Linked DNA regions of Homo sapiens. The protein of the gene in region 2 interacts with the protein of the main gene of each other region in a biochemical or structural test. Each region holds a gene or a part of one and is shown on either strand. Other genes may lie near its edges.

The links.
Region 1: the proteins of KDM5A (region 2) and RBPJ form a complex in vitro, tested with the Homo sapiens proteins (one study listed by BioGRID).

Annotation. Positions count from the first base shown.
Region 1 is NC_000004.12:26,322,862-26,335,525, reverse strand, and holds part of RBPJ (recombining binding protein suppressor of hairless), read right to left. Parts: exon of another isoform or gene 12,638-12,664; coding exon of another isoform or gene 12,576-12,637; intron 1-12,575. UniProt on the Homo sapiens protein: Transcriptional regulator that plays a central role in Notch signaling, a signaling pathway involved in cell-cell communication that regulates a broad spectrum of cell-fate determinations.
Region 2 is NC_000012.12:383,301-395,825, forward strand, and holds the start of KDM5A (lysine-specific demethylase 5A), read right to left. Parts: upstream 6,021-12,525; 5' UTR 5,792-6,020; coding exon 5,627-5,791; intron 2,675-5,626; coding exon 2,597-2,674; intron 854-2,596; coding exon 731-853; intron 1-730. UniProt on the Homo sapiens protein: Histone demethylase that specifically demethylates 'Lys-4' of histone H3, thereby playing a central role in histone code. Does not demethylate histone H3 'Lys-9', H3 'Lys-27', H3 'Lys-36', H3 'Lys-79' or H4 'Lys-20'.

The DNA.
Region 1 (12,664 bases), on a different chromosome or scaffold from region 2:
CAAAAAGAAGAGAACGCAGAATATCTGATAAGAAATAATGGATGCAGGCCGGGCACGGTGGCTCATGCCTGTAATCCCAGCACTTTGGGAGGCCAAGGCGGGTGGATCACGAGGTCAGGAGATCGAGACCATCCTGGCCAACATGGTGAAACCCTGTCTCTACTAAAATACAAAAAATCAGCCGGGCGTGGTGGTACACGCCTGTAGTCCCAGCTACTCAGGAGGCTGAGGCAGGAGAATCACTTGAACCCAGGAGGCGGAGGTTCCAGTGAGCCGAGATCACGCCACTGCACTCCAGCCTGGGTGACAGAGCAAAACTTCATCTCGAAAACAATAATAATAATAATAAGAAAATAAGAAAAACTGATAGTGGGAGGAAATAAGGAAGTTACTGAAGTTAACGTTTACCTGTGGCAGCCAGATGGACAACAGCACTATAACAGATATCAAGTCTATTTTATAGGATGGTATCACAGATACAGGTGGTAAAAAGAACAAGTTGTTTTGGAAAAGGCAAGTTTAATGAGCCTGCAGAACAACCAGTAGGAATTTTTAAAATGCGAATCTAAACATCCACACTAATGACACAGACATAAAGTCAAAGAATACAGCAAGAGGAAGACAAAAACTGCAAATCACAATACTTAAGATTGGAAGAGAAGTAGCAAAGAGAAGATGGAATAATCAAGAAGTGGAGATAGTAGCTTGTTAGTCAAGAATAAAGACATAACATAACAAAACAAAACACAAGATGCAGAAAAATGAAATAGGCTGATGACTGAAATGAGGTTTGGGGGTCTGGTAAAAGGAGGTTATTTACTGATGGCCTGGGGTGAAAATCAGGTTTTAATATGTAAGCATAAGGGAAAATAAAAACAAGACCAAGTCAAGAGATGAATAAAAGGCATGGCAGTAGCTTGAGTTAAGAAAGGAAACGGACGTTAAGCAATCCTTATAGACCAGGCCTAGTCTTGCAGCCCCTTTGCATACACACGTTTGATCCTCAGAAGAATTCTCATGTATGCTCTCCTTTGTACAAAAGGGAAAACTTAAGTTGCAATGCAATTAAGTAACTTGCCCAAGGCCACACAGGATGTATACAGAATTTAAAAACCTAAAAATTGGTCTGTAGGCAAAAAAGGAATATTAGAAAAAAAAAAAGAAAATACAAAGCAGAAAAGTTGGGCCAGGCATGGTGACTCATTCCTGTAATCCCAGCACCTTGGAAGGCCAAGGCAGGCAGATCAACTTGAGGTCAGGAGTTCGAAACCAACCTGGCCAACGTGGTGAAACTCCACCTCTACTAAAAATACAAAAATTAGCTGGGCATTGTGGTGGGCGCCTATAATCCCAGCTACTCGGGAGGCTGAGGCAGAAGAACTGCTTGAACCTGGGAGGCAGAGGTTGCAGTGAGCCAGGATAGCATCACTGCGCTCCAGCCTGGGCGACGGAGCGAGACTCCATCAAAAAAAAAAAAAGAAAAGGCAGAAAAGTTGGATTAACTGATAGAACAACATCCCAGGGATGCCCTGACAAAATTATTTTAAAAATTATGTCCGAGCCATGTACAGTGGCTCACAACTATAATTCCAGCACTTTGGGAGGCCAAGGCAGAAGGATCGCTTGAGCCCAGGTGTTGGAGACCCTGTCTCTACAATAAAAATAAAAATTAGGCAGGCATGGTAGTGCAAGCCTGTAGTCCCAGCTACTTGGCAGGCTGAGGCAGGAGGATCACTTGAGCCTGGGAGGTCGAGGCTACAGTGAGCTGTGATTTTGCCACTGTATTCCAGCCTGGGTGACACAGTAAGATCCTATCCCAAGAAATAAATAAAATTAAGCCAGGCACAATGATGCATGCCTGTAATCTCAGGTACTCAGGAGGATGAGGCAGGAAGAATGCTTGAGCCCAAAATTTCCAAGTCTGCCTGGGTAACAGAGTGAGACGTCCATCTCAAAAAAAAAATTTTTTTTAATTTAAAAAACTTTTTAAAAATGAAATACAAAATTTTTACCTAAAGATACATTACGCTACTTCAGAGAAACTTTGAGCCCAAAGACTAGTCTAATCAAGTGTAACTTTAAAAATAAGTTTATTTCCTGGAAATTCATTTAAAGTAATCTAATAGATAGAGATACCACTTCCCTCACATTGTAGTTGAGGACTGAGTAGATATTCAACAAAGTGTTAGCTCCCTGGCACCTTTAATATTATGTTTGCAAAACTACTGAAATTTTTAAAATAGAATCGAATGTCAGCGTTTCCATTTCTTTAAATTAAGAAATATATCGTTGTTCCTTGGTATCCGCAGGGGATTGCTTGCAGGATCCTCCCATACATCAAAATCCACACATACTCAAGACCGGCAGTCAGCTCTCCATATACACTATTCTTGCATCCCATGAATACTGTATTTTCCATCCAAGTTTGGAGGAAAAAAATCCACATATAAGTGGACCCACTCAGTTCAAATCTGTGTTGTTCAAGGGTCAAAGGTACTCCCAATTGTTAACAGTGATTATTTCCTGGTATAAGACTATAGTGGCTCACTTTACACAATATACTTAAGTAACTTTTGAGGCCAGGCATGGTGGCTCATGCTGGTAATCCCAGTGCTTTGGGAGGCCAAAGTGGGAGGATCACCAGAGACCAGCAGTTTGAAACCAGCCTGGGCATCACAGTGAGAGACTCCGTCTCTACAAAAAATACAAAAATTAGCCAAGACTGGTGGCGAGTGTCTGTAGCCCTAGCTACCTGGGAGGCTGACATGGAAGGATTGAGTCCAGGAGTTTCAGGCTTCAGTGGGATATGATGGCACCACTGCACTCCAGTCTGGGTAGCAAAGCGAGACCCTGTCTCAAGAAGTAAATAAATAACTTCTGAATTTCTTATAACAAACATTACTTTTCCAACAAGAAAAATAATCAAGATGATTATTTTATACAGATGTGAAATCAATTAATTTCTAAGAAAAATTTCCATATCAAGATGGTCATTTCCCTGAAATAACTATGAAAACAAGCTAAAAATTAAATAAATGCCTTTTAAATTACATTAGAATTTAAACAAAAATGTATATGGTAGCTTAGGTGGACAGCTGATTTATTTGTATTTAATTATTTAAGCAACTGACAATTTCCAGGACTTAGGGTACCTAAGAAACTGCTGTTTAAGTAAATGACATGTCAGTAAATCCTGTGTGCAAAGTGTACATATCACATTGAATACATGGGAGGAAGGCCAGGACAAAGAATGGCTTACTTACCAATAATTATGAAATAACCTCTGAAAGGTCTTTTTTTTTTTAACATTACAATAGTGACATGGCAACTCCCATTAATTAGTAATATCCATTTAATCAAATAATGACACTCATTATTATAAGCTGTAAGTAAATTACCATATACTATCACTTCTATCTTGGGAATGCTGAAATTAATTCACTTCCTTGACATGTGGATAAGCATGGATGACAGATACAACAGACTTAATGAATCCCATAGTCAAGAGAATAATATTGCCTTGGCATATACACTAGAAAAAATTCACTACACACATCATCATCATGTTCATAAACCAGATCATCTTTCAGTATAAAATTTCAAGTTGTAGCCTCTCTTCTCTGTATGACAGCCTTCTTTCTTTTCACTCTCCTCTGTCCTTCCATCTTCCCTTCCAGAGGCTGTGGAAACAGCCAGCTGCAATTTATTGCAGGTGGCATAACCAAGAAGCTAGAGAGAAAAGAGGCAGAGACTGGAGTAAGCCAGAGGTAACTGCGTCCAGCCAGTTCTCGAGTAGGAGCAACTGAAGCAGAGTGGATAAGGAGGTGTGCAGTGAGGAGGACAACTATGTTCCTGAAGAGGCCACCTGGTCAGTTAGAAATACAAGACAAAGATCATAAGCAGCACCAAAAACAGGAACACAGCAAACGAGGAAAGAGCAGGCAGGCTCCGAGCTGACCATTTAATGAAGCAACACTGGCCGCCGCACTCTACCCATCAAGGCTTGGGTGCTGAGGGATTTACAGTCTTGCTCTAAGTCTGCACATATGAGAAAAAGGGCTATTTTTTAAAAATGCATGTAACATTAAAAGGCAGCTGAGTGAGATAAATAGAAAGGTATGGGAAAAAAAAAAACATAACGTTGGGTACAGGGGTTCACACTTGTAATCCCAGCACTTTGGAAGGCTGAGGCCGGCAGATCCCTTAAGCCCAGAAGTTTAAGATCAGCCTGGGCAACATGGAAAACTCCGTCTCTACAAAACCCAGCTAGGCATGGTGGCGTGCACCTAGTCCCAACTACTCAGGAAGCTCAAGTGGGATGATTACGAGCTCGGGAGATTGAGGCTGCAGTGAGCCATGACAGCACCACTGCATTCTAGCCTACGTGACAGCAAACCCTGTTTCAAAAACAAAAGACTAACACAGGCCTTCCCCTCCCCCTAAAACAAACCAGGAACTAGCTCAGTCACTGAATGTGTCTCAGCCATTATCTAACCTGTCTGTGTAAATGAATGGGTACTTTTAGAATATATGATTAGTAAGGTCTTCTCTGGCTCTAAAATTTCCTGAATCTAATGGATTTAATAATATATATCACACGTGTCACACAGGATGTAGTTACCTTTCTATGTTATGTAAGTTACCATTAGATGGTATGTTACTTCTCAATAGGAAGAGTACAATACAAATAAGAGCACACAGAATCATAGCCTAGCATCAGTACACACCACGCTTCATCATCGTTCATCAAATCCTCTGAGAAACAAATCCTCACAATATCTTCCTTTAAAGCAATTTACGCAGTCATAACAACAAAAAACAATGCCTAAAATCAAACCATCATGCCTCACTTTAAGCACATTGAGAGATGGGGAAATGTGCTTTGTTCACTTGTGAATTTCATTGAGCTTCCATTCTGCTTCTTTCTACAGGACATATTCTAAAGGCATTACACTTTTCTAATTTTCAACAGTCTAAATGAGTTTTCTATATGATATGTGTTTCATATTCCACTTCAAAAAATATAGGTACAGAAAAGGCAAAAAAGTGAATATAATCCGGGGGTCAGTTTCTACGTGGGTTTCTAGGTAGAAAAACCTATCTATGCTGAATGTCAGCTTTATCAAGACCAAGAGCCACCTAGTGGCAAGTGTTATATATTACCAAATCTGCTCAAGCCATATTCATCCAGCAAATAACATTCTGGCAGATGGTAGGTGCTCCACAATTGTGCAAGGTAAGTAAAATAATTGCTCCTTTTCTTATGAAGCTCACTGACAGATTAAACAATCAATTACAGATAAATTTATATAATTGCAGAACAATGTTAAGTGTAACAGAAGTATGCAAAAATAAGCATCCAGCATTTATTAAAGACCTACAATAAGCACAACACTTTGTTAAAAAGGTTCTCTTGTATCTGTTCACCTTACTCAGAACTTTCCCTTTTCTGATTATTTTATCACCAGGTTTTAATTTCAGGTTTTTTCCTACCCTCCCTTCTGAAGGGGGTGTACCCCACTCCCATCTTACCCTTTAAATTCCACACTTCAGAAAAGGGGTAAGGAGAACCTATTTATTGAGCACCTACTATTACCAGAACCAAGCTAGGCATTTTCTTTTTTTTTTTTTGGAGACAGAGTCTCACTCTGTCGCCCAGGCTGGAGTGCAGTGGCGTGATCTCGGCTCACTGCACGCTCCGCCTCCCGGGTTCATGCCATTCTCCTGCCTCAGCCTCCCAAGTAGCTGTGACTACAGGCGCCTGCCAACACGCCCAGCTAATTTTTTGTATTTTTAGTAGAGACAGGGTTTCACCGTGTTAGCCAGGATGGTCTCGATTTCCTGACCTCGTGATCCGCCCGCCTCGGCCTCCCAAAGTGCTGGGATTACAAGCGTGAGCCACCGCGCCCAGCCGGCCCAGTAGGCATTTTCTATCTCTTATTAATCCTCACATCAATACCATGAGGTATTATTTTCTTCCATTTTTTAGACAAAGGAAAAGACCTAGCTTAAGTGAAATGCTCATAGCCACAAACTTATTTTAGTGACTTACAGTACAATTATTCCCAAGTTCCCTACATCACCCTGCCTCAAAAAGAGCTTCTTGGCCTATTCATTCCTAGGCCCACCACCAAAATCAGATTTTGATTATATTTCTCTTATGGTGTCCACCAATTCCAATCTATTTTACACTGTTTACATCCAGCCCTACCTCATCTTAAAACCCTCAATGCCGCCAGGAACGGTGGCTCATGCCTGTAATCCTAGCACTTTGGGAGTCTGAGGCGGGTGGATCACCTGAGGTCAGGAGTTCGAGACCAGTCTCACCAACATGGAGAAACCCCGTCTCTACTGAAAATACAAAATTAGCTGAAAGTGGTGGCGCATGCCTGTAACCCCAACTACTCGGGAGGCTGAAGCAGGAGAATCATTTGAACCCGGGAGGCATATGTTGCGGTGAGCCAAGATCGCACCATTGCACTCCAGCCTGGGCAACAGAGCAAAACTCCGTCAAAACAAACAAACAAACAAAAACCTCAATACCTTACCCTTGTCCTCTGTATCCCTGATTAATATTCAAATAATCACCTTAGGCCATCCATAATCACACCACATTGGGAGACCAAGGCAGAAGGATCACTTGAGCCCGGGAGCTCTGGACCAGCCTGGAAAACATAGCAAGGCTGTCTGTACAAAAAAAATGTTTTAAATTAGCTGGGGTTGCTGGCGCACACCTGGGTTTGGTGGCACACACCTATAGTCCTAGCAACTGGGGAGGGTGAGGCAGGAGGATCCCTTGAGCCCAGGAGGTTGAGGCTGCAGTGAAGTACGACTTTGCCACTGTATTCCAGGCTGAGCAACAGAGCAATGAGACTGTCTCTAAAAAACACCAACCAGCCAAAAAACCAAATAATCAGGTTAGCACTCAAGGTCTTCCAAGAGGCTCCCAATTACTTTTCCAGCTTAATTTCCCATCACTCCCTATCAACTCTCACCTTTTCTATGAACTCCAAATGAAGATAATCATTTACATCTGTGTTCCCACCAACACTAAATATCGGTTACAGCACTTACCATAATCTCCCTTACACAATAATTACCTGTGTACACTCTACCAAGTCATGAGCTTCACCAAACCATTTCTTAGCCATCTTTATAGGACCAGCACAAAGAGTGTCTTATACCTAATAAGTGTTCAACTGCTTATTTAATAAATATATTGTTATTAAAACAATACTAAAAGGAGAGCCACTAAAGCATGGTTATACTATTAACATTTTCCTTAACACCCCTCCTACATGTCTTAGGACCCCAGTGTTTCTGCTTACTCCAAATGGTGTATGGATTAGGAGCTTTGTACAGATCTAGGTAATTTTTTGCATGAAAAATGTTATCAAATTAAAAAAAAAAAAAGATGTGAAAAAACATGCTGGCAAAATCAGGCACAATCTTTGCAGATCTGCAGTTTTCCAAAAGGGAACATATACCTTTGTTCTATTTATGCAAACCAGTCTAAAGCTAGTTTGTACTGGAGGAAATTAAGCTATGTCCATAATAGACTGTTCACATTATTTTAAAAAAACTACAATATTACATTTATATTTCATAAAGCAATACTGTACTTCTATAACACAATATCATACTTATAAAAAAGTTTTATAGAGTGAAAAACTTTTTTTTTGAGACAGGGTCTTTCTCTGTCACCCAGGCTGGAGTACAGTGGCATGATCACCATTCGTTGCAGCCTCAAACTCCTGGGCTCAGGCCATCCTCCTACCTCAGCCTCCCAAAGTGCTGGGATTACAGGCCTGAGCTACTACTGCGCCCAACATTAAATATTTTTTCTCCTGTTATGTAAACTTTTTATGAGAAACTACTCTTATCACTTACAACTCTGATTATCATCTCATTAACAATGCACAGATAATCATTAGCTCTTAGGCTAAGACTACTGAATACAAAAAAAAAAAAAAAAAAAAAAAACCTCCAGGGTCAACTTGATTCTCTAGTGTATTCTGCTTCACATCAAATAGATGCAGTTTTCATTGCAAGGCTTTTGCAACTCAGAATGCATTAAAAAAATGTGTTTTCTATATTTTATTTTTTGTAAACTTAAAATAGTATAAATATTCCCAAGATTGCCGTAAACTTCACCAATATGACTGAAAAGCTCTCAAACTTACCATTATGCATTGTCTCAACACAACAAAATTACACAAATATCTATACGGATAGGTAATTACTACCACTTACAGTGCCTGTGACGCCTTCCCCAACCTCCTACAGTAAATATGACATGTTCGGAAATACATTACCCTTTTTAGACCATTAGGGTATCATTTAATTCCCTTAAGCAGCAGGTCTAATGAGGCATAAGCAACACCATGATGTTGTGCCAGGCCTAAGAGGCATACAGAACTGTGGGCAGGATAAGAGTCTGAGAGATAGTAGCAGCTAGACATTCAACATTCCTACATTGTTACAGCTGCCCAAGCAGAGAAGAGAGCAGTAAGAAATAGACCCCAAAAAGCTGGGGGTGACTCAATGACAACATTCGTGGTCAAGCAGTAATTTAACAAATATGTCTGCTTAAAATGCCAAAGCACATATTTCAAGGGTTGCGGTCCTCTGCACCAAATACATTGCTGCCTTCCTAAAACATGACCCACAAAACCACAGCTTGCAGTATAAAAAGTCCATCTTGAGCCCTGCTCAAGATGAAAGGTTACCAGAGGAAACTGATTCTTATAGTAATTAAAATATTTGTATAGAACGCTTTACTGTTTACAAGTCACTTACACATACACTGTTTCATTTGACCTTATTTCACAAAATTTACCTTATTTGACAGTCACAATGTGCCTGACAGATAAAATATAATTATCATCCCCTATTTTATAGAGGTAGAACCTGAAGCTTAAAGAAATTATCTGTCAGTAATATGTCCATGAGACCTGAGTCTCCATGTAAATTATCAACTTATTATTTGGTTCTATGGCATGGATTCCCCAAAAAGCAGTCTACAGTGTTCTACGGTTTAATCTAACATACATCCCTAGCCATCTAGTACTGAAAACAGTTAAAAATAATGGAATCTTTTGATAAACACTGACAGCCAATCATATAAAAAACAAAAGTGAAATTTAAACTTGTCAGTTTTATACAAATATAATGTAGTATTTTCTAATAATCAAAAAAAAAAACTTTTGCCTAAGAGCCTTACTATAATGTTCTCAGGGGCTATGAGATTGCTTGTGGCTGAAAATATCAATTCCTCTGGGTACTTCAGCAATTACTCCTTACAGAACCAAAGTCAAATACCTATATATAAATTATACATATATATGAATTAGACACACATATACTGTATACACACAAGCACACACACAATTTTAAAATTGTGCCACATGAACCATGTTGCACCAAGATTTCAAAGCACTGAGTCCTATGTTCAAAAATTCTTTTTGCTGAGTCTCTATCATGTGATAGACAATCTTCTAAGTATAAGAATATAAATGATACCTGCCACCAAGTGACAATATTTGGGTGTGATAATTACAACTTAGTATCATGCTTCCAAGAGAATTATATACAGCATTTAATACTGTATTAAATATACAGTATTTATACAGCCAGGCACCAACTGTAGTCTGGTAGATCTGGTTAGAATATTCCCTTAGTCTTGAGAAATAACCTACTAAGGATCATTACTTTTCATACACAAGAACGCATTAAACTGCTGGGCTCATGCAGAGATGTCAAAATACTTTAATATGACTGAAGCACTGATTATGGAGAGAAAATGGCAAACAACTCAGCTGGAGAAGAGACAGATGAAATAGTTATGGAGGATCCTATGCGCCACAGTAGCTAACATCTTTTGAGCACTTGCTACATGCCAGGAATTCTGCTAAATGCTTTCATACATTATCTCATTTAATCTTCACAACAACTTTCTGAGTTAGGAATAATTATCTTGCAATTGATAAAGAGATTAACTTGTCAATGTTACAGGGGTTTTAACTGGCAGGGGTTTTAAGTGCCAGAGACAGAATTGGAACCCAGTTCAGATTAAACACTAAATGTGAGCTCATAACCCTCCACTCTGTTGCCTCTCTTAATGAACGCTGCTAGGGGGAGCCATTGAAAGGTTTTTAGATTAAGCAGTGATCAGATTTGCTCTTTAGAAAGACTGCTCTGCTACATGTAGAAGCTGGATAAAGGTGGTGACTCTAGAAGCAGAAAGAGGCTGTCAGTACGTCATAGTAAACCAGGTGAGAAATGACAGCATGAACTTCGGCAGTGAGGATAAGGGAAACAAATTCAAGAGATTTTTTAGAAGGAAAAATGATCAGTTCTCAGTAATTAAATGTAAAGGCTGGTGAGAGAGGAATTAGGAATCGTGGCTTTGGGAACCAAACGGAATATGGTATCATCTACCAAGAACAGAGAAGCAACAGGTTTCATTCAGTCAATACGTATCTACAGAGTGCTCCTCAAATGCAAAACACTTTTCTAAGGCCAAGAGTCAAATCTGAAATTATAGTCATGGTTATTAGAATTTATTCTTAAGAGCAAATAACAAAGCACTAAAAAATATAAGGCATATTTAAAATTAATCACTGCTATTAACAGACTTGGCTTAGAGTCCAGTGAAAGCATGTTGTACTACCATTTGTTAAATATTACTACATGCAGGCCAGGCATGGTGGCTCACCCCTGTAATCCCAGTACTTTGGGAGGCCAAGGTGGGCAGATCCCTTGAGGTCAGGAGTTTGAGATCAGCCTGGCCAACATGGCGAAACCCCATGTCTACTAAAAATACAAAATTAGCCAGGTATGATGGTGTACGCTGGTAATCCCAGCTACTCAGGAGGCTAAGGCACGAGGATCGCTTGAACCCAGGAGGTGGAGGTTGCAGTGAGCTAAGATTGTGCCACTGAACTCCAGCCTGGCCACAGAGTGAGACCCTGTCTCAAAAAATAAAATAAAATAAATAAATAGAATATTGCTACATGCAGAAAACAAAAGAGGAAAGGCATCCCATAATTTTATAATGTTATTACATTTGAGTTTGACAGAACTTCAATCTCTTACACCACACACACACACACACACACACACTCACACACGACACATCACCCTGTAATTTGTTTTATTTGTCCCTTTCCCTATAAGTTTATGGGGGGCAGGAATAAAGGTATCTGTTTTATTACCCATATTATAATACATATTTGGGATTTTAAAAAATCCCACTATCGCTACTGTGTCTTGCCAAGAACTTAAAAACCTCCTATTTGACTTCCTATAAAATATGACCTACTTCACATTAGCTTATTTCAGTAACAATTCCTAGACCTTCCCCACAGTTTTCATCCAAGGATGCTCTCTGCGAATCTTAAGGCACAGCAATCCTGTGCAGATGTGGCAAGTTATTATAATTCCCATTTTACTACATAGTTAGGAAACTGGCCCAGGGGAAGTAGAGTAACTTGGAAATAATCACAAAGCCAGATGCCAAAAATAACAACTTTTAGTCAATCCATGAGAAAATACTGCCCCTAGTTGAGATAACATGAAATTTAGTATTAGGAGGAAGCAAAATGCAAAATAATGCTTTAAAGCCAAGTCCTGGGTCTTATTTCTAAAAATGAACAGAAGAATGAGATGTATAATAACTTTCAAACGAAACAATTTTTTCCTAATGCCTTACCCATCAAGGGTGCCAAAGGTTATTTAATGAATTACATCTGGCAAGAATGGCCTGTCAACCAAACCAATTTTGATCTTACCCACTTAAAAAAAACATTGATAGAAATCTGTTGGTATAGGACAACAGATAACTTTTTAACAAACCTAACTGCTTAAAATCTAATGCCTACAAGTGTGTATTAGTACAGATTTGAAAATATTGCAAGTCTCCTGTTTTCTGAAAATATACTCACAGATCCATCAGCAATATGCATGGATAATAAAATTTAAAGCTTTAACAGTTAATACTCAGAATGAAAGTTCTCCAGCCACAACGCATCCAGATTTCGAAATATGCTGCTGTTATAATTTAATTAAAAGCAGTTTTATTTCACCAATCATGTAAGTAAAAGTATTACACGATTTAGAAAGAAAAACGCAACTCAAATGGTAAAAGCGCTTTTATCATGTCTGTGTAATCATTCTTACAGGTACAAGTCAGAGCAAAATACCTTCCATTACTACACAGTATTTACACTTTGCTCCCAGTCAGAGAACCAGTGAGCTCAAGATTTTACCTTCAAAACAATGATTATGTACAAGAACAAGTAAGGGAGACATAAGATTATTGGTAAAACCCACTCAAGCGACCCAGACTGCAGATTTTCACAAAAAAACTTATGTATCAATCATGAAAACATGGTTTTCCATTAATTAAAACTCAAACTACTAATTCTAATCACAGCCAGAAAAAAAAGTATTTTCCAATGCTCCAATACTCGTTAGAGTAGATCTCGTATGTCCCCTATCAACAACACTTCACTATTGTAGAACTTCAGTTTGTAAATGAAATGACACTCCAAATGATTTTATGGGTAACATACCTTCTAAAAGTAGAGATCAACCAGTAGAAAAAAAACAAACTCTTGAAGAATACCTTCAGCATAGTAATCCTGGTAAATATAATAACTCT
Region 2 (12,525 bases):
ACTTTCCGGACTCATGTGATCCTCCCACCTTAGCCTCCTGAGTGGTTGAGACTACAGGTGTGCACCACCATGCCCAGTTAGCTTTTCTGTATTTTTAGTAGACATAGGGTTTCACCATGTTGCCTGGGCTAGTCTCTAACTCCTAGGCTCAAGTGATCCTCCCACCTCAACCTCCTAAAGTGCTGGGATTACAGGCATGAGCCACCGTGCCTGGCCCAAATTTTCAATTAAGTAACAAAAAAAAAGATGACAAGCTCAACACAGAACATTGTACACTCAGCACAAGATAACATTAGCAGGCTAGAGTAATTTATTTTGCATATTGTATATCACAGAGCCTGATAAATATTAATATTTAGTAATTAAATATTGATCTCAACAAATATAAAATAAGTTTTAAAGATAACTTTGAGAACTGTCATTTCCATTTATTCAAATGTGCATTTCATTGTCCTTTTTTTTTTTGAGACCGAGTTTTGCTCTTGTTGCCCAGGCTGTAGTACAATGGCGCGATCTCAGCTCACCACAACCTCCGCCTCCTGGGTTCAAGCAATTCTCCTGCCTCAACCTCCCGAGTAGCTGGGATTACAGGCATGCGCCACCATACCCAGCTAGTGCATTTCATTGTCAAACAAATCCTCTATTGGAAGCAATGTTTCCTACCAAATCTATTTGATATTCCTAAATTCACAAGCCTGTGCTCTAATTTCTAAACCAGTATGAGCCTCACCTTGCTCAAAGCATACAGATCCAGGATTTTTCTCTCTACCACAGGGATCTTCAGAGTAGATCCTTGAAGTTCCCAAAATTTTGCTAGTTGATCCAAGAAATCCAATCTCACTCTGGTCATTGCCTAAGATTATTAAAATACAGAAGAACTAAGTTATGATTGAAATGAATAAGAATAACAGAGCAGGGGTCCCCAAACCCCAGGATGTGGACCAGTACCCATCAGCGGCCTGTTAGGAACCCAGCCACACAGCAGGAGGTGAGCAGCGGCAGTGGGCAACCAACCGGGCAAGCATTACCACAAACCCTATTGTGAACTGCGTGTGAGGGATTTAGGTTGTGAGCACCTTTTGAGAATCTAAGTAATGCTTGATGATCTGAGGTGGAACAGTTTCATCCCAAAACCATCCTCCATACCCCCATCCATCCATGGATAAACTGTCTTCCATGAAACCAGTCCTTGGTGCCAAAAAGGTTTGGGACAGCTGTAATAGAGGTACTCATTTCTCTAAAGAAATTCAAAGACTTTTTTTCATTATTGCTTATTTCAACCCTGTAAAACTAGCCAATAGTAAAACTAGCCAATAATAAAGAGGCAAAAGACTTCTAATAAACTATATTTATTCAGGCAAAAAAGTTACTCTGATTTATGTAAAAAGTTGTCATATTAGCAACCAAAACAATTTTTGTAAGTTGGTTTAACTCTATGCTGATCAGAAAATTCAGTAGATCGGATTCTCTTCAGTCTCTAACGTTCTGTCATTTCATCCATATGTAACATGCACACTTTAGGTGCATCAACTCTATACCTCACTGATACTAATATGCTTTGTCAAGTATCTAATTACAAGAGACTAAAAAGAAAAAATATGCATTGCGGCCAGGCGCGGTAGCTCACGCCTGTAATCCCAGCACTTTGGGAGGCCAAGGCGGGCAGATCACCTGAGGTCAGGAGTTCCAGACCAGCCTGGCCAACACGGCAAAACTCCGTCTCTACTAAAAATACAAAAATTAGCTGGGCATGGTCGCTGTAATCCCAGCCACTAGGGAGGCTAAGGCAGGAGAATCGCTTGAACCCGGGAGGTAGAGGTTGCAGTGAGCCGAGATCGCACCACTGCACTCCAGCCTGGGTGACAGAGCAAGACTCTCTGGAAAAAAAAAAAAAAAAAAAGTATGTATTAAACTCTCAGAAATGTTTTGGGGAGAAAAGAAAAAAAACTTCAGAATGACATAATAAACCTTTGCTATCAATAATTTTCCTTCTGTACTCTAAAAGTTTTCATATCACAATGAAGAACCTTCTGAAAACCCATAAACAGAAAAAACAGCAAAACGTACACTTCCATTTAGAAAATTTAAGATAAATTAGTAATACTTAAAGTAATTAAAAAATAATACTTAAAGTAATTAAAAAGTAATACTTAAAATCTTAATAAATCAGATTAACACTCCTGGCAAAGTTCCATTAAAACCAAAACCAAAACCAAACCAAAACAAAACAAACTCTGAAAACTAGGGTTTTAAAATAGGATTTAAAAATCCATTTTCCAAGAACCGAGGGAGAAAGAAATCTTCCAAGATTAACAAAAATTTTAGTAGAGTAAGAAACACTAGAGAAAGTAGAATTTAAGAATTCTAAGTCTCTGAAGCTAAGCATTGAACATTTCTCAGTTAAATGGAAAAACCATAACAACTTTGCACAGTTTTTAAAAAATCATACTCTTCCTCCAAACATCAAGTAACTATTCCATTCAATACCAATTAACACAAACTCTAGGCTGTGGTACATGAGCTTCTCAAAGTTCTCTACCTACAGCCCTAATATAAAGAATGAATCAGGAAGCAGAAATAGTGACAAAACACTTACCTCAAGTTCATTCAGGCGCTGGACTCTTGGAGTGAAACGAAAGCTTTTTACTTCACAGGCAAATGGAGGCTGCCAGTCCTAAATAGAAAGATTTTTTTAAAAAAACACAGTGGTATGTAAACAAGGAATGCATTAATTATTCCCTTAAAGGGGGGTTTTGCCACAAATCATGGTGCTAATAGACTAACTTACAAGTCTTCTTTATTATAGAGACAGAATGAGCAATTCTTTTCGATAAAATAATTTTAATACAGGTTGAGTATCCCTCATCTGAAATGCTTGGAACCAGAAGTGTTTTGGATTTCAGATTTTTCCATATTTTGGAATATCTGCATATACATAATGAGATATCTTGGAGAAAGAACCAAGCCTAAATACAAAATTCTTTTGTTTCATATAAAGTTATACATAGGCTAAGGTAATTTTATGCAATATTTTTAATAATCTGGTGCATAACGCTTGTGTATACTGGACCGTCAGAAAAGAAAGGTGTCAGTAGCTCAGCCACCAGTGTGGACAATTTGTGGTTGTCTGGCATCACCATCATTCCTGACTGTGAATTTACATGCTACCAATAAACAATCATTTCCTTACACTTATTTCCACTTAAGTAGTTAACAGAAAAAATATACCATACCATTAATACAATGAAAAAAATAATCTGTTCAAGCTGGGTGCAGTAGCTCATACCTGTAATCCCAGCACATTGGGAGACTGAGGCAGGAGGATCGCTTGAGCCCAGGAGCTTAAGACCAGCCCAGGCAACAGAGCGAGACCCTATCTCTATAAAAGAAAAAGAAAAAGAATAATTCAGATTTTGGATGATTTCGGATTTGGAATTTTTAAAGTAGGGATGGATGCTCAACCTGTATTGCTCAGAGAAGCAATCCTCTTCAAACCAGTCCCACCGTTTACCTCCCACAATTATGCTTTCCCAAGTTACTCAAGTGGAATTCAATGAGGTCATGTACCACAAAACAGTATCTAGTAAACATTCAGGTTTACCAAGATCAAAAAAAAAAAACTTGTGTTTAAACTAAAAAGGGTAAAATTTAAGATTAAAAAGAAACTTTTAAGAACTTATTTATTTAAACGATTTTTTTTATGTTATGTGTAATGTGACAGAGCACTTTATGTTACACAAATGTTTTGTTCAAAGCCCAGCTTCTGGGAACCCAAATATTCAAAAAACACGCAGAACAAGGACAATTTCCAGACTGTGATATAACTAAAATTAGATAGCATATTTCAAGTGGGGTCTAAATAACATAGTTTGATTTGGCCTAAATAACAGAATAACAGTAAACCTATTTTAAAACGTTGAGTAGTCAAAAAAAAAAAAAAGTCTTACCTTGGAAACTGAAGAAATCTGCCAAAACTAAAATTAAATTCTGATTGTAAACAAGATTTATTTTCAATAATGTGACATAAAGAGAAAGCATTATTTCAGCATTTTTTTAAGTAAAAAAACTTTTTTTAATCAAAGTAACCGTGAATAGAATTTCTAATTAATAAATTCAAGAGTAGATAAAAATATGACTTAGGAAAACCTTCAATGCTTAAGATTTGTTAATATTAGGTAATTATGATAGAAAAAAGGGTTAAATGGAAGTTTTTGGAGGATGGCAATGCGTATCATCATAGCAATTATTTGTTAATCCTCTGCTTGAAATGAGTAGTCTATAACCTTAAACAAAGTCATTCAACATAGTGAGAGCATTACGTCTGTTTCAGAATCAGAAAAACTGATCTAGGTTCAAAATACACTTTGCCACTTGCCCAAGATCACACATTTGGTGTTTTAACTTATCCAGATTAGCCTCATCTGTAAAAGGCGGACTTTATTTACCTGTCAGGGCTTCAAAGATTAAAGCAAACAATCTATAGGTGTTAAATTAGTTCCTCCTCGCTGTCATTTAAGTTTTTAATACGCTGCGGTGCCTATCTCTGTGGTAGTCAGTGGTGACGGCAGATGCTTTTTAAAAAGCAACACTGGTTAACAGTGCTTAATATTTTATCATTACTAATACTAGACAAAACATAAAGCAAAATGCCTTTAACAAGCAACGACTAAAGCAATGGTTCGAAAACCTCAACTTACATGAGAATCATCTGAGACTAGTTGCTAGAAAAGCAGATTCCAGAACTTCCACAACAAGACTAGAGATCTGCATTTAAACAAGCATCCAGTTGACCCTGGTGCAAGTGGTCCAGCAACATCATTTAAAAAGCACTGGTCTAATGAGTAAAGAAAAACACCTTTGACCTTGAGTAATCACTCAACCTCTTGGGGCATTAATCCCCTCCACACAAGGGATAGTATCTGTTTTCCTTACCTCAAAGGTGAGATTATAATTAACCTTATAGGCAAACCTAGTTATCTGCAATAACTGTGATTCTAAAATCGTTGATCTTGAGTTCCCTACGTCAAGAGATTTCAACATTTCCTTCCACCTCCACTATAAACCAATTTTTCCTAAACCTCTAAATTTTAGAATTATTGCTGCTCCTTCTCTTTCCCCGCTAAGACTTTTTCACTGCGGCAATAATTAGTCTGGAGTTCTTGTCTAGTAATACCATCCGGTGAGACTAGAGCTCAGATAACCTTTTCAGAAACCCTAGCCCTGAGATGAGGCCTGCAAATATTTGATCCAACCAGGTCTTGAATAAAGAGATAGCCGACTATCAAACCATAATGAGGATACGTGAGGGAAGAATACGTCACGTCATAATACTGTACTTTAAACACCATATCGGCTAACGAAAGGCTTTAGGCCCACGGCTGAGAGAAAAGTATCAGTTCCCAAGTTCTAGGCGGAAGAGGCCCAAGAGACACCACTTTCTCGCTTTCAGACGTGTCTACATAAGACCACAAAAGAAACCGAGGCAAAAACATCCAGAAACAGGCTCCAGTTGTCTCAAAAGAGAGTACATATGAAACGAGACAAGGATCAGAAAAGTAAAGCTAAACCCAGTGTACGGACTCCCCCATTCTTCCTTCTCCCCCTCTCTCTTCACAGACTGAGGTACCTTGGGCGGCCGAATTTTGCAGATGCCGGTTTTCTCCGCCAAAGGCCGGATGCGGCCGATAAAGCTGAGCGGATCTGTGAACTCCTCCCAACTCGGCTCAAAGACGGGGCACTCTGGCGGTGGCACGAACTCCGCCGCGTAGCCCCCCGGCCCCACGCCCGCCATTGCAACGGCCGGGGGGGGGGGGGGGTCCCCGTGGGGAACCGGTGGAGAAAAGCTGGCTGAAGCCCACTAAGCCCGTTCAAGTCCCCTGACAGAGGCCGAAGCGCATCTTCGCGGACAAGAACCGTTCAACACAGAAACCCCAGAATCGCTTCCTCCTCCCGTTTGTTATTGTTTCTTGCAAGGCTTTTCCACTGAGGTTCAGGACTTTTCCGGAAGTTACCGTGCTGTCAAATCCCTCCGCCCCCTGCAGGAAACGGAATCCTTCCGCAGCTGCACGACGCCTGTGTGTCTGGCCTTTCCTTCTTCTTCTCTTCCCCGGCAGCACAGTGTGGCTGTTTGTCTCCTTGCCCGCCAAAGTTCTGCCCAGTCCAACGACTCCACGCAGCTCGCCCTTGGTAAGGGGTCGGGGAGGGGCACAAGCTCTTCTTTACTAGAGGTACGGATTGAGGGAAGCCGACGGGGCGAGGCGGGGCGAGGCGCAACGAGGCGGGGCGAGGCGCGACGCGACGTGACGCTTTCTTCCGGCGCGGAGGAATGTGTAATGCCCCAGAGGGCAGAGGTTGTGCTTCCGGTGAGGAGGGTCCCTTTCCCTTTTGTGTATCAGTGCACTCGAAAACACGCCGGGCTTAATCTTAAGCACCGCGCCTCACCGCCCGTGCTTCGTAATTTGTTTTAACCTACCCTGCTGCGTTTATAGCAAGTAGCCTTTCCAGCATTTCTCTTTTTTTAGCCCTTTGAATGCAGATATTTTACAGTAATCTCACTCTGCCACTTTATACCCGCCTCTTCTCCATCAAAACAAGTGCAGGTCTAACCCATCCCCTAAATCCTGCCAGCTGGCTTTAGCCACCATCCATGAATTGCTTTTCCTTTTACACAGGACGCAGCAGCTCTCCTGAATTACCAGCCAGTATCGTCTAGCTACCTGCAGGACATCTCACTTTGATAACTCAAAGTACTTTAATTGTTCACTGTTTCTTCAGTGTTCCTGGTTTCCATTAATGACTTCATCTATTCAGTTGCCTGAGCAAAAAAAAAAAAAAAAAAAAAAAATCAAGAAATAATCCTAATTCTTTCTGCTCTCACTTCCCATGTATAATCGTGTGTCTCTCCATCCCCGTTACCAGTATCCTAATTTAAATACTCTTACTGACAACAGCTGATTTCTCCTCTCAAATCCCTCTCCATCCACACGTTGGATTGCTTTGTCTAAAATCCAGAATTCATCTTGTCACTTTTCATCTCCAAACTCAACAACTCCAAACATCTTTTTTAATTGCTGATTTGCTGCTTTGCTCTCCAGCTTCATCTCTCCTGCTTCTCCATATGATCTACAGAAGTTTTTGTGGTGACTTTAGTACACCATGATTTTTCTCACCTCTGAGTAACAAATCAGGGGACTTTGAATAACGCAGATTGCCCTCCATAATGTGAGTAGGCCTTATCCAATCAACTGAAGGCCTGAATAGAACAAAAGACTGACCTTCCATGAGCAAGAAGGAATTTTGCCAGTAGATGGCTCTCAGACTTGAACTGTAGCATCACCTTTTCCCTGGCCTCCAGCCTGCCAACCCACCCTGCAGATTTTGGACTTGGAAGCTCTATAATCAAGTGAGTCAAGTCCTTAAAATAAATATCTTTATAAACACACACACACACACACACACACATCTTATTGGTTCTGTTTCTCTGGAGAACCGTGAATACATCTAGGGTTGGAGGGTTCAAGATGGCCTCACTTACGTGTCTGGCAGTTGGTGCTGGCTATTGGCTGGGAAGTCTTAGTTCTCCACATGGCTTCTCATCTTCTGGTAGATGGAGCTTTTCCACTGCATGGTGGTCTTAGCATTCTAAGAAGATGAGAGTGGAAGCAAAGACCTAAAGCCTAGACTCCAAAATGTACAAGATCACTCCATCATATTCTGTTGGTCAAAGCAAGTCATAAGACCATCCCAGATTCAAGAAGTGGGAAAATTCCAATTTTTTATGAGAAGAGTGACAATGTCACATTACAAAGGGGTGTAGACACAGGACGCTGTGATTCATAATAATTCCATACAATTATTATAATGATTTATGTCCAGGTGCAGTGGCTCACGCCTGTAATCCCAGCACTTTTTGAGGCCAAGGCGGGCAGATCACCTGAGGTCAGGAGTTTGAGACCAGCCTGGCCAACATGGTGAAATCCTGTCTCTATTAAAAATGTACAACAATTAGCCCAGGCGTGGTGGCAGGCGCCTGTAATCCCAGCTATCCAGGAGGCTGAGGCAGGAGAATTGCTTGAACCCAGGAGGTGGAAGTTGTAGTAAGCCGAGATCGTGCCACTGTACTCCAGCCTAGGCAAGAAGAGTGAGACTCTGTCTCCAAAAAAAAAAAAATTTACAACAAAGTCTTTGATTTTTACCACTTAAATCTGGAAAACTATATTATTCGGAAAAAGAAATAATGGAATTCCGAATAAAACAAGCCACTGATAATTCATTTTATTAAACATTCAATTAAATGTAATGGTTTTGCTTTCAAATTAACAGAGCGTGAGAACCTGATAGAACCTCAGTATAAGCACAAATCCTTAAAAGCTTTGATTGGTCCTATTTATTTCCTGTTATTTTCTTCAGATTATACTTACCTATTTTATTTTAAACTGTCTCTCTAGTAGAATAGAAAATGTATAATGATTCTCAATCATTTTTATTTGCCACAGTACTTCTGAGAAATCTGTAGTGGTTGCTTACAACAGCAGGAAGTCTGTAAGAGAAGACAGTGAATAGAAGGGCAGCAAATATTAACATCTCTGGTGCGAACAGAAGAAACTTCTGTAGTTACAACCACCTCACATTCTGATGCTTCCCTCAGGGGGGGCACATGAACCCCACTCCCACCTCTCATGCTTACCCCTTTGAAAATCACTGTTGTAAAAATCCAAATTGTGTTTCATCAGCTTCTATGAGGGCATTCTGCACACACAATGTTAAACTGAGTCAATAGTATTTGGGTTTCTGGTCAGAACAGTGGAGTATAACTGTAGTTTAAAAGGATCATTTGCATTACTTAAACAATCCTTGACAGTAACTTTTCAGAAAAAAAAAAATTAGAGTATTATTTATCTGAAATTTATTATCCTGAGTGTTAAAATAGACTAAAATGAATACTTAGATCTGATAATCATTTGGCTAGACCGTGGTCCCTGGATTTTTAAAAAATGCAATAAAACCTCACAAAATCAGATTAATTAGGGTTAGTTTCAGAGAGGGAAAAGTCAAAATTACTGAATTCTTAAACAAATGTCATTTTAATTCAAGAATAATTTCCACCAGTGATTCTCAAACTGTTTTGGTGTCAGGACGCCTTTACTCTTAAAAATTATTGAGGCCAGGCACGGTGGCTCATACCTGTAATCCCAGCACTTTGGGAGGCCGAGGCGGGCAGATCACTTGAGGTTAGGAGTTCGAGACCAGCCTGGCCAACATGGAGAAACCGCATCTCTACTAAAAAATACAAAACTTAGCCGGGCGTAGTGGTGGGCACCTGTAATCCCAGCTACTTAGGAGGCTGAGGCAGGAGAATCGCTTGAACCTGGGTGGCGGAGGTTGCAGTGAGCCAAGATGGTGCCACTGTACTCCAGCCTGGGCAACAGAGTAAGACTCTGTCTCACAAAAAAAAAAATTATTGAGAACCCCCAAAGTTCTTGTTTATATGCATAATACATATTGATGTTTACTATATTAGAAATTAAACCTAAGATGTTTAAAATATTTTATTCATTTCAATATAAAACTTTTATATTTAAATACATTTTAAAAATAATAACTATATTTTCCAAAACAAAAAAATCTGGTGAGAAGAGTGGCATTGGTTTACATTTTTTGTACTTTTTTTTTTAACATTTGGCTTAGCAGGATCGAGCTGGATTATCATATCTGTTTCTCCAACCCGTTACAATATGTTCTTTTGGTTGGAATATATGAAGAAAAACCAGCACCACACAAATATGTAGTTGGGAAAGGAAGAGCATTTTATTTATTTTTTAATTTTTATTTTCTTAGACACAGGGTGTCACTCCGTTGCCCAGTTGGAGTGCAGTGGCACAACCCCAGCTTACTCCAACTCTTGGGCTCAGGCAATCCTCCTGCCTCAGCCTCCCAAGTAGCTAGGACCACAGGTGTGCATCGTTATGCCCAGCTAATTAAAAAAAATTTTTTTGTAGACATGGGATCTTGCTATGTTGCCCAGACTGATCTCAAACTCCTGGGCTCAGGGATCCTCCCACCTCGGCCCCCCAAAGTGCTGCGATTACAGGCATGAGCCACCATACGTAGTGCAGAGAAGCATTTTAATAACCTTCTCAGATGACTGTAATTTCTTAAAGGCTAACAATTTGGAATCTAAAACTTTATCAGTTAACTTTTTTACACTGTTACATTAAAATGGTAGTCAATCTTGTCCTTTTTTTTTTTTTGAGACAGAGTCTCGCCCTTCCCCCAGGCTGGAGTGCAATGGTGCGATCTCAGCTCATTGCAACCTCTGCCTCCTGGGTTCAAGCAATTCTCCTGCCTCAGCCTCCTGAGTAGCTGCGATTACAGGCACCCACCACCACACTCAGCTAATTTTTGTATTTTTAGTAGAGACGGAGTTTTGCCATTTTGGCCAGGCTGGTCTCGAATTCCTGGCCTCAGGTGATCCACCTGCCTCGGCCTCCCAATGTGCTAGGATTACAGGCGTGAGCCACTGCGTCCAGCCAATCTTGTCCTTGAATGGACTTTTTTACCCAGTCATGCTTTTGTAACATCATGCATTGGTCATTTAGAAAATACTGGTTCACTGAGTTATACGGCTTTTCCTAATGTTGACATGTATTATTATATAATATCAAAAAAATTTACAAAAATATCACCATCAATTTATCAGGCAATTGGGAAGTTGTCAAACTCATGATGACAGAAACAAGTTTTCCAAAATTATAATTTTCACTTGAAAGCTCAAATTTTATTATTGCCAACAAATACCATTAGTTGTTTTCATTGAAGAGATTGACTCACTTTGTTCATTTTCAAGAAAAGATCTGCCGTATCTAAGTCTGAACAACCATAGTTTGTCTGTTAGTCCTTCTGGTGTTCTGTGAAAAAAGTGGCTAGTTGAGCTGGTATTATTTCCTCGAGAAAACCCTCTGTATGCAACTGAGTGCGTTATGTGTTCTTCTTACTTCATCGCACAGACAAAAGACATATTTAAAGGTCCAGATTTATCACAGTTAATAATTTTTACTCCTTTATGAAGGGCATTCTTAAATGACACTGGCTTTCCCCAGTGAAATCTATGTAATGAAGGCAAAGACTCCAAGTATGGTTTGGTGTCACTACCATGATTCATGCTGAGGGACCAGCGTTTTACCCACTGTTGCTTTTGTACCATCCATGCAAATGTCAAAGTGAACATGGCAAATAGCATCTTAGTATTACCACGGTCAATGCTGCTCTTGTTTAGGCCCTTTCTCTCATACGAATTTCCACTGTGGCATTCCAATGACCTTCAAGCATTGTTCTTGTTTGATCCTTTGCCACCAGTGTGATTTTTAAAAATTATCTATTTGATGTTGTGTGATTGCGAGAGAGTGATGAATTGGAGAATGACTCTTTGGCATTGTAATGAATGATGATGCATTAATTTAGATATAGAATGGAAGAAAAGCAATCTAATGGGGGGAGGCAGCACACCTGTAGGGAGGAGGATTATACATGCATTCAACATTTATTCCACATCTCTATGTGCCAGGCACTCTTCCAGATGCTGGATATATGACAGTGAACAACAAAAAAAGACAAAGTATCGGCTCTCATACAGCTCACTAGTAGAAAGGGAAGACAAAAGAATAAGCACAAGCTAATAAATATATACTATTTTAGTGATGATAAGATTTTTTTAAAGTGGAGAAAGTAAGGGGGCTTGGGTGATCATCAAAGGGCTCACAGATTGGTGACATTTGTTTTTTGTTCTTAGTTTTCTGAGGCACGGTTTCATTCTGTCTCACTTAGGTTGGAGTGCAATGGCATTATCTTGGCTCACTGTAACCTCAAACTTCTGGGCTGAAGCGATCCTCCTCCCTCAGCCTCCTGAGTAGCTAGGACTACAGGTGTGTGCCACCACGTCTGGGTAATTTTGTTTTATTTTTCTATTTTCTATAGAGAGAGGGTCTGGCTGTATTTCCCAGGTTGGTTTCAAACTACTAAGCTCAAGCAATCCTATTGCCTTGGCCTCCCGAAGTGCTGGAATTACAGGCATGAGCCACTGCACCCAGCCAGATTGGTGACATTTGAATAGAGGCTACTTTATAAAAATAAAAGGACAAATTGCTAAATGAATATCCAATCAGGAGGGATTACAGCTAGCCTTCCATATATGTGGGTTCCTCATTTAGAGAGTCCGTATCTACGAACCCAACCAACTACAGAAAATATTTGGAAAAAAAAACAATAAAAATAATAATAAATAATAAAAATAATACAGATTAAAAAACAGTACAGGCCGAGTGTGCTGGCTCACGCCTGTAATCCCAGAACTCTGGGAGGCCGAGGTGGGTAGATTGCTTGAGGTCAGGAGTTCGACACCAGAGTGGCCAACATGGCGAAGCCCCATCTCTACTAAAAATACAAAAATTGGCTGGGCGTCGTGGTGCATGCCTGTAGTCCCAGCCACTTGGGAGGCTAAGGCAAGAGAATCGCTTGAACTCAGAAGGC